Linked DNA regions of Homo sapiens. The protein of the gene in region 1 interacts with the protein of each later gene in a pairwise test. Each region holds a gene or a part of one and is shown in the gene's direction. Other genes may lie near its edges. The genes, in order: TUBGCP5 and HEMK1.

The links.
Region 2: the proteins of TUBGCP5 (region 1) and HEMK1 interact in binary tests that used the Homo sapiens proteins (3 or more experiments, as listed by UniProt).

The regions. Positions count from the first base shown.
Region 1 is NC_000015.10:22,997,986-23,012,909, reverse strand, and holds the end of TUBGCP5 (gamma-tubulin complex component 5), read left to right. Parts: intron 1-1,578; coding exon 1,579-1,777; intron 1,778-2,776; coding exon 2,777-2,965; intron 2,966-4,028; coding exon 4,029-4,211; intron 4,212-6,557; coding exon 6,558-6,642; intron 6,643-6,737; coding exon 6,738-6,858; intron 6,859-7,299; coding exon 7,300-7,478; intron 7,479-8,682; coding exon 8,683-8,808; intron 8,809-9,756; coding exon 9,757-9,845; intron 9,846-12,240; coding exon 12,241-12,341; coding exon of another isoform or gene 12,342-12,388; exon of another isoform or gene 12,389-12,626; intron 12,627-13,043; coding exon 13,044-13,090; 3' UTR 13,091-13,733; downstream 13,734-14,924. UniProt on the Homo sapiens protein: Component of the gamma-tubulin ring complex (gTuRC) which mediates microtubule nucleation.
Region 2 is NC_000003.12:50,560,163-50,575,834, forward strand, and holds the start of HEMK1 (MTRF1L release factor glutamine methyltransferase), read left to right. Parts: upstream 1-9,359; 5' UTR 9,360-9,412; exon of another isoform or gene 9,413-10,639; intron 10,640-10,740; exon of another isoform or gene 10,741-10,768; 5' UTR 10,769-10,942; coding exon 10,943-11,170; intron 11,171-11,547; coding exon 11,548-11,639; intron 11,640-11,914; exon of another isoform or gene 11,915-11,952; coding exon 11,953-12,046; intron 12,047-13,208; coding exon of another isoform or gene 13,209-13,664; exon of another isoform or gene 13,665-14,538; intron 14,539-15,672. Other genes in the region: uncharacterized protein C3orf18, read right to left, coding at 755-902, 1,560-1,585, 13,209-13,664. UniProt on the Homo sapiens protein: N5-glutamine methyltransferase responsible for the methylation of the glutamine residue in the universally conserved GGQ motif of the mitochondrial translation release factors MTRF1, MTRF1L, MRPL58/ICT1 and MTRFR.

The DNA.
Region 1 (14,924 bases):
AAGCTGGTCTTGAACTCCTGACCTCAGCTGATCCACCCGCCTCTTAAAGTGCTGGGATTACAAGCGTGAGCCACCACAACCAGCCCTTCTGGCATTTCTTAATGCAATGCAGCGTTTAGCCCTTGAGGGCCGTGAACCATGGCTGATAAGAATTTCTTATGAGCAGTTCAGACTCGATCATAAATTTCAAGAAAATGATGCAATTTAATATATTCAAAGTTTTATGCTGTAATCCCAGCACTTTGGGAGGCTGAGGCAGGCAGATCACGAGGTCAGGAGATCGATACCATCCTGGTCAACGTGGTAAAACCCCATCTCTACTAAAAATACAAAAATTAGCTGGGCATGATGGCATGGGCCTGTAATTCCCCACTACTCAGGAGGCTGAGGCAAGATAATCGCTTCAACCAGGGAGTCAGAGATTGCAGTGAGCCGAGATCATGCCACTGCACTCCAGCCTGGTGACAGAGTGAGACTCCATGTCAAAAAAAAAAGTTTTATCAACTGACTAAAAAGGCTTGGAAGATAAAGATGTGACCTTATTTATACATCTCAATCATCTCAATGTTATGTTAATTATATTATTGTATCTACTTGAAATAAGTAGATGCAATACTTATTTTCACTTTGTGGAATATTTCCTTCTTATGTAGTGAGCTTCCCAGGGCCACTGTCAGAAGTGTTTTTTCCAATGAGACTGCGACTCCTATCAGGGTTACCATAGTGTTATGCAGTATTGTAATAAATTTCAAGTGTGCTGATTAGGATCTTACTCTTTTTTTTTTTTTTTTTTTGAGTCAGGTTTCACTCCTATTGCCCAAACTGGACTGGAGTGCAGTGGCGTGATCTCAGCGCATTGCAACCTTCACCTGCCAGTGCTCACGCAGTTCTCGTGCCTCAGCCTCCCAAGTAGCTTGGGACCACAGGCACATTCCACTGCACTCAGCTAATTTTTTTGTAGAGCTGAGGTTTCACCATGTTGCCCAGGCTGGTCTCAAACTCCTGAGCTTAAGTGATCCACCCGCCTCAGCCTCCCAAAGTGCTGGGATTACAGGCATGAGCCACTGCACCCGGACATGATATTATTTAATATTTCTTGGGCCAGGCACAGTGGCTCACGCCTGTAATCCCAGCACTTTGGGAGGCTGAGGCGGGTGGATCACTTAAGCTCAGGAGTTTGAGACCAGCCTGACCAACATGGTGAAACCCCGTCTGTACTAAAAAACAAATATATAAAATTAGCCGGGCGTGGTGGCACATGCCTGTAATCCCAGCTACTTGGGAGGCTGAGGCAGGAGAATTGTTTGAACCCGGGAGGCGGAGGTTGCAGTGAGCCAAGATGGCGCCATTGCGCTCCAGCCTGGGCAACAAGAGCAAAACTCCATCTCAAAAAATATATATTATTTTGTTACTATATATAAATATATATATTTAATATTTACATATATTTAATATTTATATATAAATATATAGATTTTGTTACTTAATATATTGTTAATGTTAATATGATTAAACAGAATGTTACTTAATATGATTAAACAGAACTTAGTTCACCTTACATATTTCTTTATGTTTCAGATGCAGAAAGAAAAAGTTTATACACTCTCTTTCTGGAATCTGTACAGTCCCGTCTTCGACATGGAGAAGATTCCACTCCACAGGTTCTTACTGAGCAACAGGCAACCAAGGAGAACCTGATGAAGATGCAGTCCATTGCTGAAAGCCATCTTGAACTGGATGATGTTCATGATCCACTGCTTGCCATTAACTTTGCAAGGTGAGACACACCTGCAAGGTTATCAGTAATTGAAATGGCATCATTTGTGCAATGTTTGCTAACTGTTTATTTCTGGCAGGTAGGGCTAAAAACAAAAACTCTTGTAGGCTATCCTTTCTTTTTTCTTTTTCCTTTTTTTTTTTTGTTTGTTTGAGATGGAGCCTCAGTCTGTCACCCAGGCTGGAGTGTAGTGGTGTGATCTTGGCTGACTGCTGCAACCTCTGCCTCCCAGGTTAAGCAATTTTCCTACCTCAGCCTCCCAGCTACCTGGGACTAGAGGCATGTGCCACCATGCCCCGCTAATTTTTGTATTTTTTGTAGAGACGGGGTTTCCTCCTGTTGGCCAGGCTTGCCTCGAACTCCTGACCTCAGGTGATCTGCCCACCTCGGCCTCCCAAAGTGCTGGGATTACAGGTGTGAGCCACCATGCCATGCCTATCCTTTATAACAAGCAGAATACAAGATGTTGTGCTCACCTACTTCAGGTGTATAGTTTGGATTCCATGTCGTTTGTGGAAGTCTGCAGACTTGGCCCTGCCACCATGTGGTACAACTTTTGTCTGTGCCCTCGGGCCCCTGGAAATGTCATCATTTACCCAGAAGATGCTGAAACTCTGGGCCATGAGTGGGCCCTGGACACCCATTGAGTCAGGGTCCCCACTGGCATATAATATGTCCTGGGCTTAAGCTGCTTTTAGGCACTTAGTCCATTAGAGTAAGTCATTAATACCCACACAGTTCCCGGTTGTCTAATGGCCAGCATTTGCTGTGTCCAGCCCTAATCACTAGAAAGACCAGCTCTAGTACCTGACCCTAAGTCAGTGGCAACTTCAAGAGACTGGTTCACTCAAAGGATATTTTTGGGAGAAAGATTTTTCTCTTTCTGTAATAGTTGGTAACTTCAAGACTAAAGGTAAAAATGGAACTTCAGGGTTTTGATTTAAGAGAGTTCTGTTGACAGCAGCTCATAAAAAGAAGACTCACATTTTTATCTTGAAGGATGTATTTGGAGCAGAGTGACTTTCACGAGAAGTTTGCTGGTGGTGATGTATGTGTGGATAGATCATCGGAATCTGTGACATGCCAGACTTTTGAATTAACGCTGAGATCCTGCCTCTATCCTCATATTGACAAGCAGTATCTAGATTGCTGTGGAAATCTCATGCAAACTCTAAAAAAAGATTACAGGTAAAAGAGTAATTTAATTTTGGAAGTAGTAAATAGTTGATTGTACTTGAAGAACAGTTGAGATTATTTTAAAACCTATTTCAATTTTTATTAGAGTAGGAAATGGATATACAGTAAACAATTTTCTAAGAGAAATCAATTGACCATCAATATTTTCTTAACTATGTTTTGAAACTTAATTCTTTATTTCTGAGAATCTTTCCCAAAAGAAATACAGAAAAAGCTTGTAGAAAAATTACAAAGTTTGTTATCAGAATGAAAAACACTAAATTACTTAGTGATAGATGACTAGTTTTTTAAACTATGCATATCCATAAATATGGCATATACATACCCACATATGAACTTTGTAAAGTTCATAAAAATTATGGCAATTAGGCCGAGCACGGTGGCTCACACCTGTAATCCCAGCACTTTGGGAGGCTGAGGTGGGAGGATCACGAGATCAGGAGATCGAGAGCATCCTGGCTAACACGGTGAAACCCCGTCTCTACTAAAAATACAAAAAATTCGCCGGGCGTGGTGCCGGGCGCCTGTAGTCCCAGTTACTCTGGAGGCTGGGGCAGGAGAATGGCGTGAACCCAGGAGGCAGAGCTTGCAGTGAGCTGAGATCGGGCCACTGCACTCCAGCCTGGGCGACAGAGCAAGACTCCATCTCAAAAAAAAAAAAATTATGGCAATTAAAAAGCAGGAGATATAATACGGTAGGAACTAGGTTTTCTTAACACATAGAAGAGAAGACAGGAAAGAAACATTCCAGATATTAAATATTAATGATGGAAATCCACCATAAATGATGGGATTTGGATTTTTTTTTGTTACATTTTTGTGACTGCCCAATTTTCTATAATGTTATAGAAGATAACCTTTCTGATGATGAAAGGAAAACCTATGCTGTTTTTATTATTGGAACAAGTTTAAGAGGTGTTAATATTTCTAATTTTAGTAAATGTAGAATGTAAACTTGTTCCACTAAAAACAGGTTACAAAACCTGTTGTTGATCCAGAATCCTGCCTTACGAATGCCAGAGATCTTAGTGTCACTCATTTTCTCTCCATTCAGGTTGGTAGAATACTTGCAAGCTATGAGGAATTTTTTCTTAATGGAAGGAGGAGATACCATGTATGACTTCTACACGTCAATTTTTGATAAAATAAGAGAAAAGGAAACATGGCAGAATGTGTCTTTTCTTAATGTCCAACTCCAAGAAGCAGTAGGACAGCGTTATCCTGAAGATAGTTCACGGTAAAATATGGACGCCACCTTTATTTAAATTAGTGTAACATGAACTATGTGCCAGTAAGTCTTCTATGAATTACACATATTATTTTATCCTCACTATTCCTATGAGTTTTACTAATATTATTTTACTTATTAGAAAATGGAGGCCAGGCACGGTGGCTCACACCTGTAATGCCAGCACTTTGGGAGGCAGAGGCGGTGGATCACCTGAGGTCAGGAGTTCGAGACCAGCCTGGCCAACATGGTGAAACTCTGTCTCTACTAAAAATACAAAAAGCATGGTGGCAGGCGCCTGTAATCCTGGCTATTTGGGAGGCTGAAGCAGGAGAATCGCTTGAACCTGGGAGGCAGAGGTTGCAGTGAGCCAAGATCATGCCACTGCACTCCAGCCTGGGCGACAAGAACGAGACTCCATTTAAAAAAAAAGAAAAAATTGAGGCAGAGGCTAGCTATGTGACTCTCCTGCTAAACAACAAAAGACGTTGAGATGCCACCATATGGCCAGATGCAGTGGCTCATGCCAGTAATCCTAGCACTTTGGGAGGCCAAGGTGGGAGGATTGCTTGAGCTTAGGAGTTTGCAACCAGCCTGGGCAACATAGTGGGACCTCGTCCCTATAAAAAAAGAAAAAAGTTGCCACCATACGACCTGTCAGGGTCTGATGGCCTCCTTCACATGGCTGGAGTCAGTGCTTCCTCTCCCTGAGCTCCCACACATGAGGTTTTTCAGTCCTGCCTCCTAGAGAATGCCCCTGACCTCTCAGAACTGGCTCAGAACTCCCCAATGACCTCTGTGTCTCTCAGCCTCACTCCCTTCCACCAAAACGGACTTGACCCTCACCAGGGTGACCTCAGACCACCAGCAGTGACTTCCACCACTCATCCCTATGCTCCCCGTGGGTGCCTCCTAAACAGATGGACTAAGCTTTGTCTTAGAAGGGAGAAAGCTATTTACTGTCTGGCTCCATTTTCCCAGCCTCATGTCTTGCACACATACACACCATGTTCTCTTTCCTGTCTTCCTTCGCGTTTCAGGGATTTCAGAATATTTCTGGTGTCTGCTAGTGCTGTCCTCCCGCCCCCCTGTGACATAGTCTCCAGTTCATGGGCCCGGCAGAGGTCTGCTCATTCCTACATCCCCCTTGTCTTCGTGTGCTGCACTGGGCTGGGAGTCCCTGGAGGGAAGAGAGATTGGCTTTCTATTGCCTGCTCAGTGCAGCACCTAACTTAGTATTAGTATTTGGTAGATGCCTACTAAGCACTGAGTGAATGCATACATATCAGGCCATTAAGAGCTAAAAATTCTTTTTTTTGAGACAGAGTCTTGCTCTGTCACCCAGGCTGGAGTGCAGTGGCACAATCTCGACTCACTGCAAGCTCCGCCTCCCGGGTTCATGCCATTTTCCTGCCTCAGCCTCCCGAGTTGCTGGGACTACAGGCGCCCAGCTAATTTTTTGTATTTTTATAGAGACGGGGTTTCACTGGGTTAGCCAGGATGGTCTCGATCTCCTGACCTCGTGATCCTCGAGGATGCCAAAGTGCTGGGATTACAGGTGTGAGCCACCGCACCCGGCAAAGAGCTAAAAATTCTGACTAGTGCCTGTGTCATGGATCAGCCAGTTCATAATCACACACTGCCCTGTGACATCTCTGATTTGGAAGTTAACTCCCCACTTTAAACCTTCTTCATATGCATCCAGGCATCCCCTCTTAGTGCCTCTGTGACTGTGGAAGAGGACATCATTTCTCAGGAACCACTGATGGGAGTATTTTGAGGATTAAATGAGCTAAGGACACATAATAGTGCCTGGCACTTGGACATTTTCATGTCCATGTTAGATGCTTGCTTTCCTCTGTGAGTCACATTCAAACCTGTCTCAGGAACTTGTGGATGAAGCACTGCACAGTGCCTCTGGTGTAGAAGCAGACCCCATCCCATCTCGATGGGGCTCTCGAAGCAGTACTCTCACCACATGCTCGGCTCCGTCGAGCTGCTCTGCTCGTCCTCTCCTGCCCACCCCCAACCTCAGCAGAGGCTTCATCTTCCCAGCCATTGCCTGAAGTTTACTGTCTTCCTCAGCTTCATCCTTTTTCTAATTACTACCATTGTTAAGTGTCTCTTTAACTAAACTCATTGTTTAAAAGTTTTCTCCCTCTCTGTTTCTAAATCCAAATTTCTGCTCTGGAATATATGTTAGAAGAGATACATTTGTTGGAATGTTTGCATTTCTTTTATGAAATGCAGTATCTTTTGGGGAATATTATGTAAATGAAATACCAATTATTTTAAAAGAGCATTTTTGTGTGACATAGTGCTTTCACAAACTAAAACTGGAATTTCTTTCTTTAGTCTATCTATATCTTTTGAAAATGTTGACACAGCTAAGAAGAAGCTGCCTGTTCATATCTTAGATGGTCTGACCCTCAGCTACAAGGTATATGCTGATATTCCTTGTATGAACCGTGTTTTCTGCTAACATTAAAACATGCAAGTAATTGGTTACTTTCTAATTTTGTTTTTGTTTCATAGGTCCCATGGCCCGTGGACATTGTTATAAGTTTGGAATGTCAAAAAATTTATAATCAAGTGTTTCTTCTCTTATTGCAAATAAAGTGGGCAAAATATAGTCTGGATGTTTTACTTTTTGGTGGTAAGATTTGTTTTCAGCAGATAAATTGTAATTTTATTTAATTTTAGCCCTTAATAAAAGAGGTTAATGGGAAAGGGAAGCATACGGGGATCTGGAAAAAAAAAAAAAGTTGGTGGTTGTTGATCATTTTTTATGTGTACACAAATGCCAAAATGGTGCGTATTCTAGCAGTAGTTTTATGGACATCAAATGCCTGAAAGAAAGATCAGGAAGTTGTATGTACAGTTGATCTGAAATGCAACAACTTGATTAGGAAAAGTGATACAGGAAACTTTTCCCACTGCACCTTCCAGAGGCACTGAGGTTCGGTTCCTGCCACCCCTGCCAGTGCTTTCTGTGGTGCCAGGACCACATCCGTCAGTGTTTCTGCCAGGCGTCATGGTGCAGTGGGGTTTGAGTTGATGCTCTTTCTGTCCACTTTGCTCTTCCAATGTTTTATAGAACTGGTTAGTACTGCAGAAAAACCACGACTTAAAGAAGGCCTTATACATGAACAAGACACAGTTGCTCAGTTCGGACCACAAAAAGAACCAGTAAGACAGCAGATTCATCGCATGTTCCTCTTAAGAGTGAAGCTCATGCATTTCGTGAACAGCTTGCACAACTACATCATGACCAGGGTTTGTGCCTCTCCCATCTGCTTCAGTTCTATCGTCGTATCTATACAGTTGTTCGTAGAGAATTACTCATACTATGTTTATAAGTAAAAAATACCTACAGACTGTGAAAACGGGACATGTAGCAAATTTGATCATAAAATAACATGGCAGTGGGAGGAATGTTTTTGTAAATATACCGGAATATGTGTATCCAGAGGCTGTTGTCCCTCCAGTCCAGCAGCCCCTGGGGACAGGCACAGCCACAGCTCGTCTTCTGGAATTGCCTTCAGAATGTGCCGCATAGTCCTTTAGGTTTCAATAGTGGTGACAGCTGTCCCTAAAAAATGGCTCCAATGTTTAATAACAGCCAAAATCCACTACGGTGTGTGGGAGGAAGATGCAGCCAGGTTATAGACTTTTTTCTTAAAAACAAGAACTCACTACAAAGTAAATGAAATTATTTTTCTGATACATCTAAAAGCCAGTTCTAGGGGAAGTTCTAAAAGAAGCGTTCAGAAATTGGAACAAGAGCAGTATTATTAGAGGACAGTATGCATTTGGGGTTTGAATTGTTGTTTAGACCTGTTTATACCTGGTCTGTGAGTTCTGAAACCCAACTTGCTTGGGTGAAGTGAGCCACTGAAGCCTGTGTTTTGGATGGGAAGGCTATGGCAGAGGGGCTCCACGTTTCCCCTGACTGCATTACTGCCTTCACAAGGTTGGCCTTCATTAAGCCCCTAATTGTTAAGAGTAAATGATAAGAGTTTAAGTTTTTTCTTAGTTTGTTTTTTATTTGAGGTATACTTATACTCATTTTAGAGAAAGATCAATGTATGAGAAAAGGAACTTAAGAAACATAAATTCACTGTAATTATTTGTATAAAAGTAACACATTTACTTGATTTTTTTTTTATCGATGTGTCTTATATACAGCTTAATGTGCTTGCCCCTTCCTGCCAGGAAGTCTGTTAGTCCAGAGTTTGGCGTTCATTCATTCACTGTGCAAGTGGGCGTCCTACAGGATTGCCCCCGCCGTCCTCTTAGGATCAGAACGCCAGAGTATCCAGCCAGCCTTTGAAGAATGGTACTTTATGAAACTGTCTAGATGTGCTTATTGAAGGAAGAATTTGAGAGGAGTAGAAGAGCTTAGTAAAAAAGATTTGTGTGCAGCACACAAGTCCTCAAAGAAGGCTGCTGATGAAGCTTTTTATCTTTCTCTTCCAAGATTCTACACAGTACAGGGCTGGAGTTTCAACATCAAGTCGAGGAAGCCAAGGATTTAGATCAATTGATTAAAATTCACTATAGGTATCTGTCAACCATCCATGACCGGTGTCTGCTGAGAGAAAAGGTACATGAGATGTCTCCTGCAGATGTGGCCACTGCTGGGCGAGTGGCGCTGTCTGCGTGCTTTGGAATTTTATGATGATTAAGCTTCTGTCCTGTAGAATATTCTTTAAGGAAGAACCAGATGAAATGAGGTTACAAACAAATGCCCCAGGCCGGCCACAATGGCTCATGCCTGTAATCCCAGCACATTGGGAAACTGAGGCAGGCAGATCTTATGAGGCCAAGAGTTCAAGACCACCCTGGGCAACATAGCAAGACTCTGTCTTTACAAAAAGTTAAAAAGATTAGCAGACATGGTGGTGCATACCTGGAGGCCCAGCTACTTGGGAGGCTGAGGTGGGAGCATTGTTTGAGGCCAGGAGTTTGAGGCTGCAGTGAACTATGATCTGACACCACTGCACTCCACTCCAGCTTGGGTAACAGAGCAAGACCTTGTCTCTTAAAAAAAAAAAAAAAAAAAAAAAAAAAAACAGAAGGAGGAGTGCCCTATTCGTAGAAATTGTATCTAAGAGCAACATGAGAACTATGTGTGATAGTCAACACTCACTCTGCGTTACTCTTGGATTCATTTGGAAAATTGTGTCTGCAGTTGCGGAGCAATAGCATGTCCACTTCATGTGAATAGATAGAATTCAGTAATGTTAAAACCATTGCAATTATTTGTCCTAGTTTCATTGGTGAATTTAAATGGCCATCCCAGGAAAAGGTCTTAATAGTTTGTTTTGTTGGTTTGACTGTACTGCTAATATCACTTGTATCTTACATTCAGTGAATGCATGTGCCTGGTCCCAAATGGGCATGGTTCAGAGCCTAGTACCCTTCCATATACACAGAAGGCAGTCACTGTGGTGATGAACTTTTTCTGTGATTCATTTAAAATAGGTAAAAGTGTTGGTATCAGTGTCCAAACCTAGTTACACAGTTTGTGTTCTGTGACTTTGGTCTGCAGGTCAGCTTTGTGAAAGAAGCTATCATGAAGGTGTTGAACTTGGCTCTCATGTTTGCAGACGGTTGGCAGGCAGGCCTGGGCACTTGGCGGTAAGTATGTGATTTCTGCAGCATCTGCACTGTGACCATTTCAGCTTCAGCTTCCCTTTTTTTTAGAGACAGGGTCTTCCCAGCCATTCAGGAGGCTGAGAGGAGAGGATTGCTTGACCCCAGGAGTTCAAGACTAGCCTGGGCAACATAGCAAAACCCAGTCTTTAAAAAAAAAAAAAAGTGCAAGTATTTTTTGAGAAGTAAAACATTTTTAAAAATCTGAGGTCTTCTGATTTAAACAAGCAAACATTTTTAGATTATACTCATGTTATATTGTGTACGTTTTGTTAAATTTTTATCATGGACACCTTCAAACTGAAGTGGCAAAGACAGTGTTGTGAACACCGTGATGGCACCTGCTTCAGCTGTGCCAGTGAGGACAGCTCTGTCATGTCTGTGCCCACCTCCCCAGTCACACTTGCTGAATTATTTTAAATCAAATTCTGGACATCATGCTAGACTATTCTCCAAAGTTGTATTTTGGATGAGCTCTAAAAGATGCTGTGTTTTGAGAGTGTTTGTTATTCACACACATCACATAGGCAAGTGCACTGAATCAGGGGAAGTGGCCCGGGAGCAGCTCCCTCTAGCACTGCCATCCTCTACTGTTAACTCCAGTGTACAGCTCAATATTTTGTTACCTGTCCTGTTTATAAAGTCAGTGCAACAGTAATTCTGCTGTTACTTCCATGAAATAAAAGTGCATGTTTGGTTGACTGTACTTACTCCATGTCAGTAAGGAAGTAAGAATTCATTTGAGTGCTAGTATAATTCGAAATCTCCCATTGGCTGTACTCGGAATCAAGAAACTAAGGTAGTAGATGAAGCCATAGCTGCAGGGATGGAAATAGAAGTCTTCCTCGCTTTATATTGCTGGCTCAAAGTGTGCAAAATATATTTTGCTTTTTTTTTTTCTTTTTTTTTTGTCTCACTTTGGGGTGGAGGAGAAATAACACTGCTGCATATGCTTTGCTGAAATTCAACTCTTTCAGGTTTTTTTTACAAATAAATGTGAGAAAAATACAGGGGGTGAGGAACTTAAGAAGTCTATCAACCATCGCAGTTTATGGATAAGTTAATTGTTCCTGATTGAGACTTAAAGCCGAAAAGTGAAAAATTGTAGAAGCAATGTGAAATTTGCTTGAATGCTATTAGATGATATTTTTGAGCAAATGGTGTTGTGGCTGTGTTTTGAAAGGAGTCTTTATCTTTAAAGTATACATTTATACTTATGAAATATTCATGACTGTGGTGCTCTGATGTCTCCTGTTTGCTTCTGAATATTGTGGTGGGGCTGTGGAGGTGTAAGCTTGGCATGTGGCACCTGCCATGGCTGGGCAGTGGGCCATGGAAACCCCTTCTGAAGTTCTCTCTTACAAAGTGTTTGATATTTCTTTAAAAAAAAAAAAAAGAAAGAAAGAAAGCCGAGCACAGTGGCTTACGCCTGTAATCCCAGTGCTTTGAGAGGCTGAGGTGGGCGGATCTCCTGAGGTCAGGAGTTCGAGACCAGCCTGACCAACATGGAGAAACTCCATCTCTACTAAAAATACAAAATTAGCCAGGCGTGGTGGTGCATGCCTGTAATCCCAGCTACTTGGGAGGCTGAGGCAGGAGAATTGCTGAACCCAGGAGGCAGAGGTTGTGGTGTGGTGAGCCGAGATCGCTACATTGCACTCCAGCCTGGGCAACAAGAGCGAAACTCTGTCTAAAAAAAAAAAAGGCAGCCAGGCTCCATGGCTCACAACTGCAATCCCAGCACTTTGGGAGGCCAGTGGGGGCAGATCAGCTGAGGTCAGGAGTTCGAGACCAGCCTGACCAACATGGCGAAACCCCATCTCTACAAAAAATACAAAAATTAGCCAGACATGGTGGTGGGCATCTGTAATCCCAGCTACTCAGGAGGCTGAGGCAGGAGAATCACTTGAACCCAGGAGGCGGAGGTTACAGTGAGCCGAGATCGTGCCACTGCTCTCCAGCATGGGCGACAGAGCAAGACTCCATCTCAAAAAGAAAAAAAACCTTTTTAAAAATAATTTCAGATTTTAAGTTTTATATCCTTAATGTGTTCTTTATTTCAAAGAGAATGTATGCTTGTAAACAATAAAAACAAGACTGTATAAAGGAAAAGGGAGTATCTTTGGTCCTCCTAGTTCCAGAACTAGATACTATCTGGAAACAGCACAGTTTTATATCCTAATGAAACTTCCTTTGAAACACTTTGACATTTTTTATTTTAAAGTAGGGTAGGACGTTATGTGTTTTATTTTATAATCTTTAGATTTAGGATTTTAAATAATTAAACCAAAATACATTTGAAATTACTCCACAGATATCTTGAAGCCTACCTATATACCCGCAATGCACTTACTTAATTGAAATTTACTTTTATTCCTAGAATGGAATCTATAGAGAAAATGGAATCTGATTTTAAAAACTGCCATATGTTTCTTGTAACCATTTTAAACAAAGCCGTCTGTAGAGGATCCTTTCCCCATTGTGAGTATATCATGTTAAAATATTTCTACCTCTGTATTTCCTTGTAACTAAGTGTATGTGTCATTGTTTTGTTACTGATCCCATGAAGAATTAGAAATTCTCACCATTTTCAAAACTGAAAAGTCCCTTAGCAGTTGTCCCATGCTTTGAATTGCTTTTTAAGCATTACGGTGAGGTGAGTGTAAGCCTGAGGATCTTACTTTCTGGTATACCATTTATTACAACAGATTTCTAAAACTCCTATTAAATAAAGTTGATGGCAGAATAGATTTCTGTCACACTTCACTATCGTGTAGTTTTTGTAACTATTTCTTTTCAAAATCTAGTCTTTTTAAAAATTTTTTTAGGAATTTAAAGCTCCTGGCCTGGCGCGGTGGCTCATGCCTCTAATCCCAGCCCTTTGGGAGGTTGAGTGAATCACTTAAGGTCAGGAGTTGGAAGACCAGCCTGGCCTACATGGCAAAACCCTGTCTCTGCTAAAAATACAAAAATGAGCTAGGCATGGTGGCACATGCCTGAAATCCCAGCTACACAGCAGGCTGAGGCAGGAAAATTGCTTGAACCCGGGAGGCAGAGGTTGCAGTGAGCTGAGATTGTACCATTGCACTCCAGCCTGGGTGACAGTGGGACTCCGTCTTCAAAAAAAATTTTTTTTCAACATTTAAACCTATTGTTTTAACCTTATTTTTATTCTTCCCACAGTGGAATCTCTAGCGTTGTCACTCATGGCTGGCATGGAACAAAGTTAAATGTCTTCAGCGTAATAAATATCTCCGACTTTGTCATCATACATGTACATTTCCACCATGTGCAGCTGAAAAGTGAAAATATTTTTATTTTGGTTTATTTGTAAAACTTGTCCACAGTCAGCCTGGCACAGTCGCTCATGCCTCTAATCCCAGCACGATGGGAGGCCAAGACAGGCAGATCACTTGAGCCCAGGAGTTTGAGGCCAGCCTGGGCAACATGGTGAAACCCGGTGTCTACCAAAAATACAAAATGTATCCAGACATGGTGGTGTGTACCTGTAGTCCCAGCTACTCAGGAGGCAAAGATGGGAGGATTACTTGAGCCCAGGAGGTCAAGGCTACAGTGAGCCATGATTGCACTACTGCAGTGCAACCTGGGTGACAGAGTGAGACCCTGACTCAGAAAGAACCACTTGCCCACAGTCCAGACAGATGGATTGTAGGTGGGTTTTCTGGAGATTAGTAGATACTGTATAGAGTTGTATACATAAAATTGTGTCAGTAGTACAAAGTGTATATAGGCTGTTTACTCTTACATTTCCTACTGTAAGATACAGATTTATGGTACTGATACCTTTAAATTATATCATATTTTGAAAATGTAATTACTGATATTCAAAATAAATTAAAGGACTTAAAATCATTTTATTATCCTTTTGCTGCTGTCCTACAGTCACAGAAGCTTTTTATATAGAGTTTTACATGTTGTCTTCCCTAAAAGTTGTCTTAGATGTAGCTGTCCTAGAAATGTTTATATTTTGGCTGGGTGTAGTTTCTCAAGCTTGTAATCCTGGCACTTTGAAAGACTGAGGTGAGAGGATTCCTTGAGGCCAGCAGTTTAAGACCTGCCTAGGCAACATATGAGACCCCATCTCTCCAAAAACAACTTAAAAATTAGCCAAGGGCTGGGCACGGTGGCTCACCCCTGTAATCCCAGCACTTTGGGAGGCCGAGGTGGGCGGATCATCTGAGGTCAGGAGTTCAAGACCAGCCTGGCCAATGTGGTGAAACCCCGTCTCTACTAAAAATACAAAAAAATTAGCCAGGTGTGGTGGCCCACATCTGTAATCCCAGCTACTTGGGAGGCTGAGGCAGGAGAATCACTTGAACCCAGGAGGCAGAGGTTGCGGTGAGCCTAGATTGTACCACTGCACTCCATCCTGGGTGACAGAGCAAGACTCCGAAAAAAAAAAATTAGCCAAGCATGGTGGCACATGCCTGTGGTCCCAGCTACTTGGGAGGCTGAGGTGGGAGGATCGATTGAGACCGGGAGGTCAAGGCTGCAGTGAACCATGATTGCATCACTGCACTCCAGCCTGGACAACAGAGCAAGACCTTGTCTCCAACAAAAAAAAAGAAAGAAAGAAATGTATATATGTTTTGTTGTGCCTGAGAAGTTCTACATGGAAAATAGCTTCAACTGATAGCGATAAATGTAAAAGGCCAACTTCACTTAGGGCCAACTGTTGGTACATACTATTGTTTGGTATTTCCTTGTTTTTTGAAATGTGGAGGCTCACTCTGTTACCTAGGCTGCAGTGCAGTAGCACGATCTCGGCTCACTACAACCTCTGCCTCCTGGATTCAAGTGATTCTCCTGCCTCAGCCTCCCGAGTAGCTGGGATCTCAGGCGTGCACCACCACGCCCAGCTAATTTTTGTATTTTTAGTAGAGACAGGGTTTCACCTTGTTGGCCAGACTGGTGTCGAACTCCTGGCCTCAGGTGATCCACCCGCCTTAGCCTCCCAAAGTGCTGGGATTACAGGCGTGAGCCACTGTGCCTGGCAATATTTCTGAGCAATTTTTGTGAGCTAACCAGTTATATTTTGAATAG
Region 2 (15,672 bases), on another chromosome or scaffold:
ATGCAGAGCTGGTGGCAAAACCAAAGGGTCTTCAGACTTCCAGCCTGGATTCTTTCTGAGCCCAAGAAGACGCAAAGAGGCTGGATAAGTCAGGGGCAGGCCAGGCCTGCTCATGGTGCTCTGGCCCTTGGGGATTTGGGGAAATGGTGGCAAGTGGTCAGGCAGCCCAGTGGTTACAACAGGATGGCCACACAGGTACCTATCCCTTTGGACACAGGAGGCAAGTTTGGCTGAGATCTTCACATGCCTGGGTCTGTCAGCCACTGGGAATCCACCAGCCTACTCAGAGGTACCGCTGTCCAAGAGTCTAACCCCATCCACAACCCACTCAGGACCACGGACCCTCAGGAAGCAGAGGAACCTGGGGTCCTAGCCGCCAACAGTCTCTCCCATTAGTCCTTTCCTACTTTCCTAACCAGTACGTGGGGGCACATGGGGCAAGAATTAGGATTTTCAATTGTGGAAGAGAACACTGAGGCTCAGAGATGCCAGTGGGGCTCCCAAGATCAGCAGGCTATGGGGCAGAGCCAGGCTGTATCCCAGGACTGCCTTGGCCTGGCCTTGCGCTGTGAGTTTGTGGGTGGCCCCAGAGCAATATGACCACTTTCTGAACAAATCTGGAAAAAGCCGTATACCCAATACCTGCCATCTGACCACAAGGCAGGTGCTAGAAAGCTGCATGAGAAAGGAGGGAGGGTGAGGGTGGAGGACAGAGGATGCTGCAGGCGGGGTGGGGAGCCTGGTCAGTGCCCACCTTGCCCTGCATGGCCTGCACAGAAGTAGCAGCCTGTACAGAGGCGGCGTCCCGCCCATGCTCCAGCAGCTCCTGCTCCAACTCATCTTGTTCCTCCGTGGGGTCGAAGTTGTACATGGGCATGAGCTGGTGGCGTAGCTTCTCCAGCCTGGGGATGGGGGCAAAGGCTGCTGGGGACAGGGCAGGCCCTTCCCCTCCCAGCAGCCCTCCAGGCCCTGCCTCCTGACTAGCTGAGCCACAGCACACAACCATGCTTAGGGCCTTAAGGTTTCCCTTGAAATGGGAAAAAATGACAGACATTTTTGCACCTATAGTACCAGCTCAACCCCTTAAATGGGTAGCCAGGGAGGCAGCAGTTACCCACTCCAGGGTAAGGCCATACGCCAAGTAGCTGTCATCCATGGGCCCCACAGAGATCACCTAGGCTAGGGCCTTGCTGTAATCCACAGCGTCTGAGTCTCAGGTGGGACTGGGGAGCCAGTAGCAGTCAGCTCAGAGCAGCAGGGCAAGGGTGGCTGGGCAGTTGGGTGGGAGTAATCCCAGCCTTCCCCCTCCCTGCCATCCCCAGTCCCAGGATTATACCCAGTTATCTAGAATCCTCACACCTGCCTGCCCTGTGTGTGAGATCCTTGTGCAAGGGGGGCCCTCAACCCTCCCCAAAGGAAAGTGGTCACCCCCAACCATGAATGGGCAGGACAGGCCTTGACTCCCTGATCAGCTTTTCACCCACTTCCTTCGGAGCCCAGCCCAGCACTCCCCATGGCCTCAAGTTTTGGGTGGGATTTGGGTTTGGGTGGGGAATTACCTCTTCTTCTTCCTGATGTACAAAACCTGCAAGAGAAGGAGCAGCATCAAATGGCAAGGAGAGGAGGCCCTGAGGAACCCAGCAGCCCTTCTGGATGGGGACATGCTGAGGCTGATGAACAAGAGACCCGTGGGTCCCCGTCCTAATGACACATACACCACTCCCCCTTCACCTTCATGCCTCTTTTTTTTTTTTTGAGACAGAGTCTTGCTCTGTCACCCAGGCTGGAGTGCAGTGGCACAATCTCGGCTCACTGCAACCTTCGCCTCCAAGGTTCAAGTGATTCTCCTGCCTAAGCCTCCTGAGTAGCTAGGATTACAGGTGTGCACCACCACACCCGGCTAATTTTTGTATTTTTAGTAGAGATGGGGTTTTACCATGTTGGCCAGGCTGGTCTTGAACTCCTGACCTTGTGATCCACCCGCCTCGGCCTCCCAAAGTGCTGGGATTACAGGCGTGAGCCACCACACTGGCCCCATGCCTCCTTTTGACATTGTTAGCTGCAGACAGTGCCCAGACTGAGTCTGGGGACTCAAGAGGCTCCCTCCAGCCTGGGAGCCCACACAGTTAGGCCCGGCCTGGGGACTGGTGGGCCCCACCTATTGGCTGGGCTGCCAATACTAACTGTAGCTCCAGCCACTCAGCACCTGCCTGTGGCTCCCCAGGGCTGAAGAAGAAAGGGAAAACTTCAGCACATTCCCTCCCCTCAACTCTTCCCAGGCTCAAAGCCACATGCAGGCAAAAAGTAAAGGGACCCGGTAAGGTAGCACATGCCTGTAGTCCCAGTTACTCAAGAGGCTGAGGCAGGAGGATCTCTTGAGCCCAGGAGTTCAAGTCCAGCCTGGGCAACATACTGACACCCCGTCTCTACAACATGTAAAAAGAACCAGAGACAGGCAGTGGCCAGACTCTGTAGCGTGTAGAGCAGTGGCTCTAGGCAAGGCCCTGAGCTGGTGGTCTCCGGAGTTCCTATGGGAGGCTGACGGCCCCCAGTGGACTAAGGTAGGGGTGGGGGACTGGAGCCCCTAGGCATCAGCCCAGGTCAACTCCCAAAAACTCTGATGCAAGAGGAACCTAAGAAGGCCCCTAGGTCCGGTCCCCCATTGTACAACCTTGAAGATGAGGGCCTAGGCAGCCTGAGAAAACATCTAGGACCTCTAGGCCAGAGTAAGAAACCCTGTACAATGCCCTGAGGAGAGGGAGGAAGTGGGTAAGACTTGGGGGACCACCTTGGGCGGGGAATCCAGGGACTTCTGCCATCATCCTGCTCTTCCCTAAACTGGCAGTTTCTGACTACCAGGAGCATGACTACCTCTGCCTCGGGGAAAGCACAGCCCTGTGGTTTACCCCAAATCCTCCCACATTCTTTGTGCCCCATTCACAGCTTGAATCTGGTTTGATTTCCAGCCTGGCCCAGAGCTCCTCCTGCAGGACCCCCAAAACCTGAAAAGAAACTAGGGTATCAATCCTCACTCTCCCCTCCTGTCCAGGGTTGCATGTAGGGGTGCTCCCTTGCTCTCCTGTGGGTAGGCTGTGACAGGAACTCTGGGGTCTTCTGGCCTAGCCCCTGCCACCCTGAGCAAGTGGATCCAGCCCCAGCCCCAGCCCCTGTGGTCCCCACCTCTCAGCCCTTGCCCCAAGCCCTCCTCCCTCCCCTGAGACCCTGGGATTCAGAAGGATCTACAGAAAAGGCCAGAACCTTTACGCAATTTCCATGCCTTTTCCCCTCTTCCTCAGCTAACAGCCACCCCCACACCTTCCTTTCCAAATCTTCCCTACCCCTCACTGTCCAGCAGGTGCAGCCCCCTCTCCTCCAGGAACCTCCCCCACCACTGATCCTGGTCTGCCTGTACCAAGCACTTTTCCTTCCTGGGTAAGGCAGAAAGCCTGGTGCAGATTTGCTCCTCCTTGTACCCACGGCCCTGCTTGAGGCTGGCATCGGGGAGAGGAAGCAGCACTCAGTGAGCACCTCTGGGCCTGTCTCCGGTCCCCAGGAGCTATCTTCTGCCCTCCGCTGCCTTTGTCCTACGAGCTTCCTACCTCTGATTTTGGCAAGAGGGGCATCCACCCAGGCCTTCTGAATGTTCCTCTAGAACAAAGAGTAAGAGAGCGTTCTCAAGTTCCAAGGACAAAACCTTTCACTGAAAGTAACGAGGGCAGTTTCTAGGCCCCATTCTGCCCTTAAGGGTGCCTCCATCTGCTTACCCACTGCATGGGTGCCAAGGGAAAACACTGGCATCCTGCCTTACCTCCACCCAGGAGACCTCTCAGGCCCTGGCCTCATTCTGCCTGTGCTGCACCCTGGGCCTGCTTGCTGGCTGGCAGTTGCTCCCTGGCAGCAATCTGGAGCCTGTGGGGCCCATATGGCAACCCTGGTTTAACAGCAGCTCCAACCAGGCCATGATGGGCCATCCACAGCCCTACTTGTCAGAGCAACATGCTCCTAAGCCCAAGGCCAGCCATCAGAGCCTGCGAGGAGCAGTGGGCAGAATCCTACCATTGCCAGGCATACTGGGGAACCTCAGGGGCACCCCATCCTCCCTAGTCTCAGCCTGCACGATCTCCAGTGGTCCCTCAGTGACATTCTGAGTGTCCATGTATCATCTTAGGGGGACAGCCCATATCCTTAGGGACTGACACCAGATCAAGAGGCATCACACTCACTACTGAAGGATACCTGCAGCCCTCTCCCCAGCCCCCTTCCTTCCTGATGGCTGCCACCTCCACCCCTTCTCATGACACGGAGGCCAGGCTTCCACTTTGAGGTCTCAGCTCTAATTTTGCTCCTCAGCTGTTCCTAACCACCTAGTCTGGAAAGCATTCCTGCTTTCCTGCTTGAGTCCCCAAGTCAGTCCCTGCAGGCTTCCCTTGGAACCCTTGGTTTTTATCTGTTTCCCACTCCCTGTAAGAACCACAGGGCAGGACCTTGTCTTCCCAGCCTCTATTGGGTTCCAAAGGCCTGGTCCAGGGCAGGTACTCAGTAAATAATTGCCAAGTGAATAAATGAATGTTCACTGCCAACAGCCTCCCATGCACAGATCATCTTACCCAGACTCTGCAGCCCACGGTCCACATCAACCACCTTTAAGCCTTTTCTTCTATTGCAACCCCACATCCACTGCCCTAACTGTCCTGCTGGCTGCTCACAGAACCCTCTGTCTGCCTCCAAACTTTTGCCCATCAGGACTCTCCACTTGGAACTCCTTGACTACTATGTGGCCTTCATGACCCAGCTCAAGACACCATGTATTCCCAAGAACCTTTTCTGTTGTTTCCAGTTGGAAGCGTAGCCTCTCTGGTCTCTGGGCCCCAGTGGACAAATCTCTGCAGGAGAGGAGGACTGCACTCTCATTAATAGATTGTTGGCGGGCACAGAGGCTCATGTCTGTAATCCCAGCACTTTGGGAGGCCAACGGGGGCAGATCACTTGAGGCCAGGAGTTCAAGACCAGCCTGGCTAACATAGCGAAACCCCATCTCTACTAAAAATACAAAAATTAGCCGGGCGTGGCAGCTCACACCTGTAATCCCAGCTACTTGGGAGGCTGAGGCAGGAGACTCGATTAAGCCCCAGAGGTGGAGGTTGCAGTGAGCTGAGATCAAGCCATTGCACTCCAGCCTGCATGACAGAGCAAGACTCTGTCTCAAAAACAACAATAACAACAACCAGATTGTCTTCTGATTGATTAGGTTCTCTATAAATCTAAACACTGATTATCCTCCCCCAGCCTACCCCAGCTCTCACCAAGGCCACAGCCAGGCCTATCACCGTGATGATCCCAAAGGACAGAAGCATGGTACCCACGCCGGCCGTGCCACCAGCTGCATCAGGGATTCTGGTGTCATTAAAGGTGGTGGCCTCTGGGCTGAGGGTAGTGGTCTCGGAGGCTGGCCCATCTGTGGCAGGTTCCAGGTCAGACTCAGAGGTGGGTGGGCGGCTGCTGAACCAGCCCCTAGCAGATGCGGTCCTGGAGTTCATGCTGATGCGGAGAGGGCCCTGGCTGAGAGGCTGCCTGATGCCAGTCAACCTGCCCACTCACTCCTGACTCCGGAGTGCCCCAGCCTGTGGTTCCTGCCACCTGTGGTGGCCACCTGCACAGCCACCTCCTTGGATAAAGGGAGCCCCCTGCCTTCCTGGGTGCTAGAAAGGAAAGAATAAGAAACATGAGGCTAAGGACAGGGGCTCAGTAGTGAGATGAAGTCTCTCTAGGTTCTGAAAGCACTGGGGAGGTAAAGGTTTGAGGGCAAGAATGAGGGTAAGTTCAGGAGACATTAGGACACATACTTTACGTATCTACGGTGCCCCTGTTTTTGGGAACAAAAATGAAGCCCTGCATCCTCTGTCTGTGGGTGAGATGATCATAGTGATCAAACCTGGAAGATATGAAAGGCAGCGGGGATGTTTGAAAGAAAAAGTCTCCCTCCCCTGATCAAAAACTCCCCTCAACCTGCGTCCCCATATCCCCCACCTCCCCATATCCACCTCCTCATTCCCTGCCTCCCACATCCCTCATCCTGCTTGGGGGAAAAAATACCACAGCTTTTTCCTTTCCTGGAGGGAAACACTTGCCCAAGAGTCAGACAGGCCTGTCTTTGAAACCTAGCTCAGCTGCTTAACTAGTGATCCCTAGAAAGTCACTCCACCTCTCTGTGTCTCCGTTTTCCTGAGTCTAAGGTGGGGATATTGAGAACATCCCCACAGGGTCATGGGGTTACAGAAATGGCAGAACAAACAGGTGTCGAAGAAAGACTTAGCTCAGCACAACCCCCATCCACAGTAAGCATCCACTACATGTTAGATTTTCTCCCCATGGCCAACCCAGTCACAAAGGGGAGCCAAGGGAGCCCCTGGACCCAGTCCACTGTATGGTCCAGACTATGCTTGGAGTGTGGGTGGAGGCTGATGTGGAAAGACCAGAAGACAAGAAGGAGAGAGAGGCTCTGGTTCTCTGGCGGGGCTTCTCCGCAGGCTCTCGGGGACATTGGACTGCCCTCCCCACCCACCAACAATAGAGGGGCTGCTAGGGTCAAGGAGAAAGGCGAGGCAGGAATGGAGCTCCCAGTGTGGGTGCCTTCTCTTCCTTTACCCTCCTCCCCTGGAAGCAGAGGGTGAGAGATTTGCCCAGTGCAGAGGGCCCTGGTTAAGGTGGGGTGGGAAGAGGTGCCAGCCAAGCTGCAGATGGGACGGCCTAGGGAGAGGAGGGATACCTAGCTCGTGGGTGCATACATCCCCCTGTGCTGGTTCATGGGCATTAGTGGGGTTGCCTCCCTGTGCAGATGCATGGGCGTGTGTGAGATGTGTAAACACCTCTGATGGTCCCTGAGGAAGGGGCAAGGCTGGCAGAGGGTTATGGGGTAGAAAGGCTCATCCCTCTTTGCCTTCTCCCTCCAGCTAGGCTGGGCACATCTGGGCACATAGGAAGTCCCGGGTTCTTTTCTTGGCTTTGCAACTGATCCCGGGCGTGACCTTGGGCCAAACCCTTAACTCGTGCCCTGGGGCTCTGTTAACATCGCCTCCCAAAGGAGAGAAGAGGCCCTACTGACCACTTTCCAGGCCTGCCTCAGGGTCCAAAGGGGAAGGGAAGGAAACCGGGGTAAAAGGGGTCGGCACCGCGACCTTCGAGAACCCGCATGCTGTTCTCCACCAGGTCTCTCAGTCCTCCCTGCCCCAATCCCCATGCCCGCCTCCGCGACCCTGTGATGCCTCCCTTCTTGCACAGGAGCAGTGACCTCAGCACTTACTTAATCCTCTCCCGGCGCCGAGCTCAGTTGGAGAGGCTAGGGGTGGTAGTGACTGGCAGGAGGCCGGGGCGGGGGGAACCCCCAAGCCCGGCGTCTGGGGCTGCGGGTCCGACCCGAGATCCGCCCTCCCTGCAAGCCCCGAGCCGCTGGCCAGGCCCGCTACTGCGCACCAGCCGCATCCGCGAGCGCTGGCTCTGCCGGCCTGAGCTAGGGTGGGTAGGGCCGGGACCCACGGCGGAGGTGGGGCCGGGCCGAGCAGCCTCGGGGGATCCCCGAAGCTACAGCGCCTTGCCTCCCTGCACGCTCCGCGCCCCCGGCCTCCGATTGGCTGTCGGGCCTAGAGCCCGCCCAGAATTGGACCGTTCGCTTGTCGCTCGGGTCTGGCTCCACCCCCAGAGGGAGCCTAGAACCTGGTCGCAGTTTTTAGAGACTACCCTCACCCCGTGGCCTGCGCCGAAGTTGGGCGGAGGACAGTGGGTGGCCAGGCCCTTCCGGGCCAGAACTCGGGACCCCTGCCAGCTACCCGTGCCAGGACAGACTCAAGCCCCCAAAACGCGGATGGATGTACAGAGGAGACTTGGGGAGAGCACTGGACTGGGAGTCCTTGGGCCTGCACTGAACTCTGGCTGACTTTGTGACCTTGAAGAAACTGCTTTTCCCTTCCTGAACCTTGGCTTTCTACTCAGACGGGTCCTCTGGTGTGAGGGTTCTAGACGAAGATGGGGAATCTTCGTCTACAGAAGTTGAGAGTGGGGTGGATTTATTATTGGGCACCCCGACCCAGGCAAGTCTACATATACCCTCACAATAGCTTCCATCCACGGCATGATCAGCTCAGGGAAGGAGCCCTCAGATACTCCTGATCCGCCGGTTTTCAAAGTAGTTTATGGGAGTCACCGGGTAGCCTGGTACAAATGCAAACGCCCCTGTGTCTCCCGGTCTGGGAAGGAGGCAGGGAAACAGCATGTTTAATAGCAGTTTAAGGCCGGGCGTGGTGGCTCACTCCTGTAATCCCAGCACTTTGAGAGGCCGAGGCGATGGATCACCTGAAGTCAGGAGTTCGAGACCAGCCTGACCAACATGGTGAAACCCTGTCTCTATTAAAAATACAGAATTAGCCGGTCGTGTTGGCTCACGCCTGTAATCCCAGCTACTTGGGAGGCTGAGGCAGGAGAATGGCTTGAACCCGGAGGCCGAGGTTGCAGTGAGCAGAGATCGCGCCATTGTACTTCAGCCTGCGCAACAAGAGCAAAACTCCGTCTCAAAAAAAAAAAAAAAAAAAAAGAAAAAAAGAAAAAAAAAGTAGTTAACAGTGTTCTAGTTAACAGTACTTTCTGGTGGGGAGATGTTGACAAGACACACTTTGCGAGACGCTGCCGAGTATTTTATAGAAGGCGCAACTGAGGTCCAGAGGTCCCAACACCTGGAGGAGTTGCCAATAGAGTCAAGATTCGAATCGGTAAAAGAGCGGCCCCTGGGGTCTGGCCGCCAGTCGGCCGACCCCCTGGTGGGCTCGGGCCACTGACCTCGGTAGGGTCACGACACTGGGACTGGACCCCAAAGTTGGACCAGCCTTCAACACTGGAACCCGCCCATGCACAGCTCCACCCGGCCCCCAGGCTAAGATAGACCACGCCCCCGGACATCTGGTCCCCGCCGGAACACCCGGGCCCTCTGGTGACACGCCCCCTTTCCGGCAGGCTACTGGGCTCCGCCCACACACCTCCCGGCCTGGTTCCTAAACGCCAGCTCGGAGCAATCCCCTTGGGCTGGAGCCAAATCCCTGCTGTGATTTTAAGGAAGACCGGCAGGTCCGGGCCCCCAAGGGTCAACCCCACACACATCCCCGCACTTTCCTGTATGCAGGCCTGCGAGCGTAGAGGGAGTGGAATTCACAGCCTCCCCACCCATCCGCAGGGGTCTCCTGGGAGGAACCCACCAGCGATAGGAACACTGAAGCTGGGCTACGGCGTCCGCCCGAGCCTTTTCTTAAAGGCGCCGACCCCGGAAGCGGGGCGTCCGAGGGAGCGCGCGACGGGCCACGCACGTCCGGGCGTCCAGTTCGGGGCAGCTTCTCCGGCTGGTGGGTGGGTGGGGCAGCCTTTCAGGCAGGTATGCATGGGAGGTGGGGATCGGAACGGGGTGTTTCGACTGCAACCGCCTGGAGACCTGGCCGGTACCATTCTCCATAGTGCAGATGGGGAAACAGGGTTGGAGAGAGGGGGCCTCATCTGGGTCGTTAACAATGCGGTGCGTAGCTGTGAGGGAGTTTACACTTCTGACTTCGGGCCTTGGCTCCTGGGACGGCGCACTGGTGCAAGAGCCGCTTCTGGAGTCTGGTGGACTCGGGTTCGTGTCTTGCCTGGGACAGTCTTTTTTTTCTTTTTTTTGAGACGGAGTCTCTCTCTGGCACCCAGGCTGGAGTGCAGTGGCATGACCGCGGCTCGCTGCAACTTCCGCCTGCTTGAACTGGGTTCAAGCAGTTCTCCTGCCTCAGCCTCCCAAGTAGCTGGGACTACAGGTGCGCGTCAGTATGCCCGGCCAATTTTTTGTATTTTTAGTAGAGACAGGGTTTCACCATGCTGGCCAGGCTGGTCTCGAACTCCTGACCTCGTGATCCGCCCACCTCGGCCTCCCAGAGTGCTGGGATTACAGGCGTGAGCCACCGTGCCCAGCTTGCCTGGGACAGTTTCTACCTGAGTGACGCTGGGCAAGTCGCTTCCCTTCTCTGACCCTACTTGTATCTGAAGATGTGGCACTTAGCAGGTGCTTAATAAACGCTAGTTTGGACTTTTATCTGGAAGCAAAGGGGACCGCTGATTTTAAACCTTCAGTTAAACTTGCTTGTGACCTCTTTAAATATACAATTGTAAATTTTTTAGTTGGTGGTTTACGCTGATGTCCCGGATTATAGGTTAAATTAGGAGGAAATTTTCAGCATGTACATCCATGACAGTACACACACAATGTCAGATTCAAAGCTCCCAATTAAAGGCAATCATCTGCCTCTTGTAACATCAGTTAAGATCATGTAACATCTGGTCCCTGCTGTGTGTTGAGCTGCCTCCCAGGCCTTGGATATTCATAGACTAATGCATTGCTTGCCATGGGTTTGGTGTGATTTTCCCCCATCTTATGGATTAAGAAAGTGAAAATCAGAAATAATGACTTGCTCAAGATCACACACGCTAGGTTAGACACAGATCTGTCCTGTCCCCACATATGTGCCCTAACCTACCACCAACCCGTTTATTAGCAGAGACTGAGCTATGGGCTCAGCCCACTCCAGCTAAAAATGTGAAGAAAACGTAAGTGGCCAAGACAAGAATGATCAAATAGGTGGGTAAGGCTCTAAATGGAGTCAAGGGGGTGTCAGAGCAAGAGCACAACTATTCTCAGGCAATGTATTGGTAGAAGGGGGGGTGTCATACAAGGCTCACCTGCTTTCCTGGTTCCTCTCACTCCCAGGGTGGCAACCAACTATATCTGAGGACCAGAGCCATTTTGGGGCACCAGAGCTTGTGACCTCTCCATCTCCACCCAGCTGGGTCCAGGGGCCACTCTCAGCACTCACCTCAGCAGCTGACATCATAAAGCAGACTTGGGAACCTGGAAGCACTCTGGAGAACCTTTCCCTGAGACATGGAGCTTTGGGGCCGAATGCTGTGGGCCCTCCTGTCTGGCCCAGGGAGGAGGGGAAGTACCCGGGGCTGGGCCTTCAGCTCATGGCAACCCCAACCACCTCTGGCTGGGTTATCCAGTGCCATAGAACTGGTCAGCCACTGGACTGGGGTCTTTGAGAAGAGGGGTATCCCTGAGGCCCGGGAATCCAGTGAGTACATCGTGGCTCATGTCCTTGGAGCCAAAACAGTTAAGTTTAGTGTTGTCAAGAGGACAGGAAGAGGGAGGAGGGAGGACTTGGGGAAGGGATATCCAGGTTTTCTGTTCACTAAGAGTGCTTAGCTGAGACTGATGGGATTTTTCTGAAGGAACGTCTTAGCGCCTGGCACACACTGTAACAGTTTGTTGGATGAATGAATATATCTCTGCCTAAGTGTTCTGGGATAGACACCTGGAAGCCTGGTGTTAGCTGTGTAACCTTAGGCAGGATGCTGCCCCCTCTGGGCCCAGATGATGAGAGGGTTGGGCCTCCAGACCAGTGCTGGGCAGGCATTATCCACATAAGACACCTGGGTTGGGGGCCTTGGGCCCAGTGAGCCAGCCACTTATATTCTCTGTGGGGACAGTTTCAGAGCCTGAGGCCGGCACTTTGGACCCAGCCCTTGACCTCTCAGCAACTACAGTGTATCCGGGAGCTGAGTAGCCGTCGATTGCAGAGGTGAGCACCCATGGATCAGACCTGAAGGATGTGTTCAGGGAGCAGCAGTCCAGCCTCCCCTATCCCCACCAAGTTCAGGGAGGAGGAGAATGTCCAAGGACTAGGGAGGTGTTGGGGTGCAGGAGTGGCAAGAGTGGGGCCGGGGTACTGAATAGGAAGAAGGGAGGGAGGGAGGGTTTTGCCTCAGGAGTCCCAAGGCCCTGGAGACATGGTCTTGCCTGATACCTTTGGCCACAAGTGGTATCTCAACCCAGGCATGGTCCTGTTGGTCCTAGCTCTGTCCCTGATGACCACCCAGCTGCCCCCTCTGCAGGATGCCGGTGCAGTACATCCTTGGAGAGTGGGACTTCCAGGGGCTCAGCCTAAGGATGGTGCCCCCAGTGTTTATTCCTCGGCCAGAAACAGAGGTAGGTGTGCCACCAGGGCAAGGCAGGATCAGGATGATGGTGGAGTTCAGGGCACCAGTCTTACCCCAGGCTTCCTCCAGGGGGCACTGGGGCCCCATGACTTCAGGGACAGTGCCTTTCTAGACATGTATTTCCTCTCTGACTGTGTTGGCAGAGCCCAGAGGACAGAGGATTCCTGTTGGTCCCCTTGACTGTTATGTTCCAAGCTATCAACCCAGCCTCTAGGTCTGGCAATGGCCCAGAGTGCCTCAAATAGTGCTGCCCAAGTACTTAGCCTGTTCTGCCATTTCTCTGGGAGCCATCCCATGGCTCACCCAACCCACAGGGAACAAATGTCTTCCAGCAGCTTCTCAGGAGGCATGGAGGAAGTGGAGAGGGCTCCAGCCGGACACCTGGAGACCTGGTATCAGCTGTGCAACCTTGGGCAGGTCACTGCCCTCCTGCCATCTCTGGGCCCAGATGATGAGAGGGTTAGCCCTCCAGCCCAGAGAATCTGGTGGCCCTCTTAGGTCTACTGACTGGTCTGGTAATCACCTGTGTTGTCCCTCAAATTACTAGGACTAGGGATGTGTGGCGCAAGTGTGTTATCCCTTGGTAAGGCACCCTGGTCCTGGAAGAGACGCTTTATATGGCCCTTCTTGGACTCCCCTCTGACCTTGTAGATGACAGAGCTGGGAGCCAGAGGGCGCAGACCAGGGAGTAGAGCTGGGTGAGAGCTGGTGGGCAAGCCAGAGGGCGCCAGGTTCTGAGAAGGAGTGTTTCTAGAAAGACCTAGGCACACAAACATTTCTGGGAAAGGTTAGTTCCCATTCCCCTGCTGTGGCCAGGGGGCCCCAAACCCTTCTTTCACTTTCTCAGCTTCTGTCCCCTAGCCAAGAAACTCTCTGACCCCTCTCCTCTCCATATCATGTGGTTGGGAGGCCAGGTCCTTGCTTCACTGCCCAGTGTCAGGGCAGGGACAGTAGGGAATCTGAGGCCTTGCTGAAGTCACAGGGCTGTCAAGGAAGGGAGCATGGGGGCAGCACGTGGACTTCCTGACTCCCAGCTCAGAGCCCCATCCCTCACATGGGGCTGCCCCATCTGGGATTGGCATGACCTAGGACACAGTATGGAGACCCAGAGCAGGGTGTGGCCTGCCACCTGCAGACTTTGGGAGGCTTACCTGTGGCTCCTGAAAACACGTGATCTCTGGCGAAGAGATCATTTGCTGTCTCCGGCTTCCCAGGGTCAGGGCATGGTGACTTTTGAGTTCCTTCAGAGCTGACCTGGCACCAGCCATATGTGCCAGGGTTCTGAGTATCAAGTGTGGACTTTGGCTCCCATGTGGCCCCCTGATTCTTGGATGGGTCTGGGCCAAGAGAGCAGCTCTACTGCAAGGGGTGGGGTGAGGGGAGATGCTGCGATTGGGAGGCCAGGTGCTCATCTTGCTGTGCAGACATTTCTGAGAACTCACCAGGTTCACCCCAATGTAAAGCCACATCGGGGGATGCCTTACCAAGAACTCAAGAGGACGTGGCCTGTGGCAGGGAGTAGTGAGAATGGGTGCAGGGGATGGTTTCTGATGAAAGGGGAGTCTGAAGTGCAAACTTGCAGGAGGCATGTGCCCAGTGAGTTGCATTTTCCCTAAGGGTGAGAAGGTGGTTCAGCCCCTGGCCTGGCAGTGAATACAGTAGGAAACTCAGGGCTGGGGGTGTGAACCATTCTCACCCAGCCTGCTGTGAGGCTGTACAGGTTGTGGGAGGCTCAGTGTTTTGTCTGTGATTGGCTTGAAGGAGGCAATGCCACCTCCCTGGGTCTGCCCCACCAGGGATGCCATCCTAATAGAGGGTACTCATGGGCACTTAGGTTCTGCCCAGGCCTTGGGCCAGCCTCTTGATGGGGTATGGAGTCCATGTTGGGGCAGCAGTTCTAGGCAGAGCCAACAACTGCCTGCCCCTCACCTCTTTCCCGCATGCGTCTGTGCCCCACCCTGTTCTTGGATTCTTACCATATTCACCTGGAGGGGGTGCCCTGAGCCTGTGACCAGCATGGCTTTTAGTCTTGCCGAAAGAGCCACCAGCGTTAGGCTGAGGGAGGCTCTTCACTAGGAGGAGAAGAGAAAGTTTCTGGACTCCTTGGGCTGTTATCTACCCCTGCCCCAGGTGGCTCTACAACCAAGATGAGTTTCCGGTGCTCTGGAGTGTTATGGCAAACAAGAGGCCACTAGTGGTGGCAGGGGCTCAGTTTCTTAGCTTCTTACCCTCCCCAAGGTGGCCATCCACATACGTGGTGTGTGTCTTTGAGGTCTTTGAGTATCTCTGTGAGGTGGCTGGCCAGTGTGGCTGGCTGAGGGGTCATTCTCCAGCCAGAGTAGGTCTGTCTATGACCAGGAAACCAAGAGAGGCTTACACACCTGACAACAACTGGTCACCCTACCAACCTCTCAGCTTGTGGCCTCACCACTGAGACCACAGGCTCTCAGCCACAGCCCTATACTGCTCACTCTGTACCTGGCCCAACCTTGCAGGCTAAGCTTGCCACAAGTACCTTAGTGGTCTCCAGTAGTGCCTGGCACAGGGCTGGTGAGAGCTAGTGAATACACACTCTCTCCTGCTGGAACTGGGCCCCCTCACCCACAGGCAATCATTTGTTAGGTGCAGAAGAGGCTTGGAACATGGAGGGTTGGACCTGCTGGCCAAGTTCTGCCTGCTTTGGACTTGCCACCCTCAGGGTGGGTGAACATTGTTGCTGGGTTTGGGGGCCTGGAAGGGTGAGATGCTTTTTGGAACCCAGCACTGGGGAACTTATGTGGAAAATGGGTGTGAGTGATCTGGAGCCCTCTGCTCCATTGGGCCTGGCTGATGGCATTGGGGTGTGGGGGAGACCTGGGGGTGTGAGACTCAGAGGGTGGTGCCACAGAGAGCTTGCCCATCACTTAGAAAGTAGCCAAGAGGGCCAGGCGCTGTGGCTTACACCTGTAATCCCAGCACTTTGGGAGGCTGAGGCGGGTAGATCACCTGAGGTCGGGAGTTCGAGACCAGCCTGACCAACGTGGAGAAACCCTGTCTCTACTAAAAATACAAAATTAGCCAGGCACAATGGTGCATGCCTGTAATCCCAGCTACTTGGGAAGGCTGAGACAGGCGAATCGCTTGAACTTGGGAGGCGGAGGTTGCGGTGAGCCAAGATCGCGCCATTGTACTCCAGCCTGGGCAACAGAGCGAAACTCTGTCTCAAAAAAAAAAAGAAAAGAAAAGAAAAAAAGAAAGTAGCCAAGAGGTTTGTCTGTGGGCCAAGCCCTGCCAGTGTGGGACACACTGCGATGAGTCAGACCTCAGGTCTTCCTATTATGGCGTCTGGTGGGAGAGGCACACCCCATCCTTAGGCTAGACCTTAGGCTCAGGGTGGAGAAAGCCGTGGTAGAGCCTGGCCCAGGCTTGAGGAAGGCTTTCTGGAATAGGTAGTCCTCTTTTCAGATCAGGGAAGCACCCACTTGCTGCCCACCATCCCCAGCTCCCTGAGCCAGTCTTTCCTGAGACCTGGGGTCCCAGGAGTCCTGACCCTCTGGGGGGCTTCTCTGCCCACATCCAAAGGGATGCCTTTGAGAAGGAGCTACACTGCCCTTTCCTTGTCTCATGCCTGGCTAC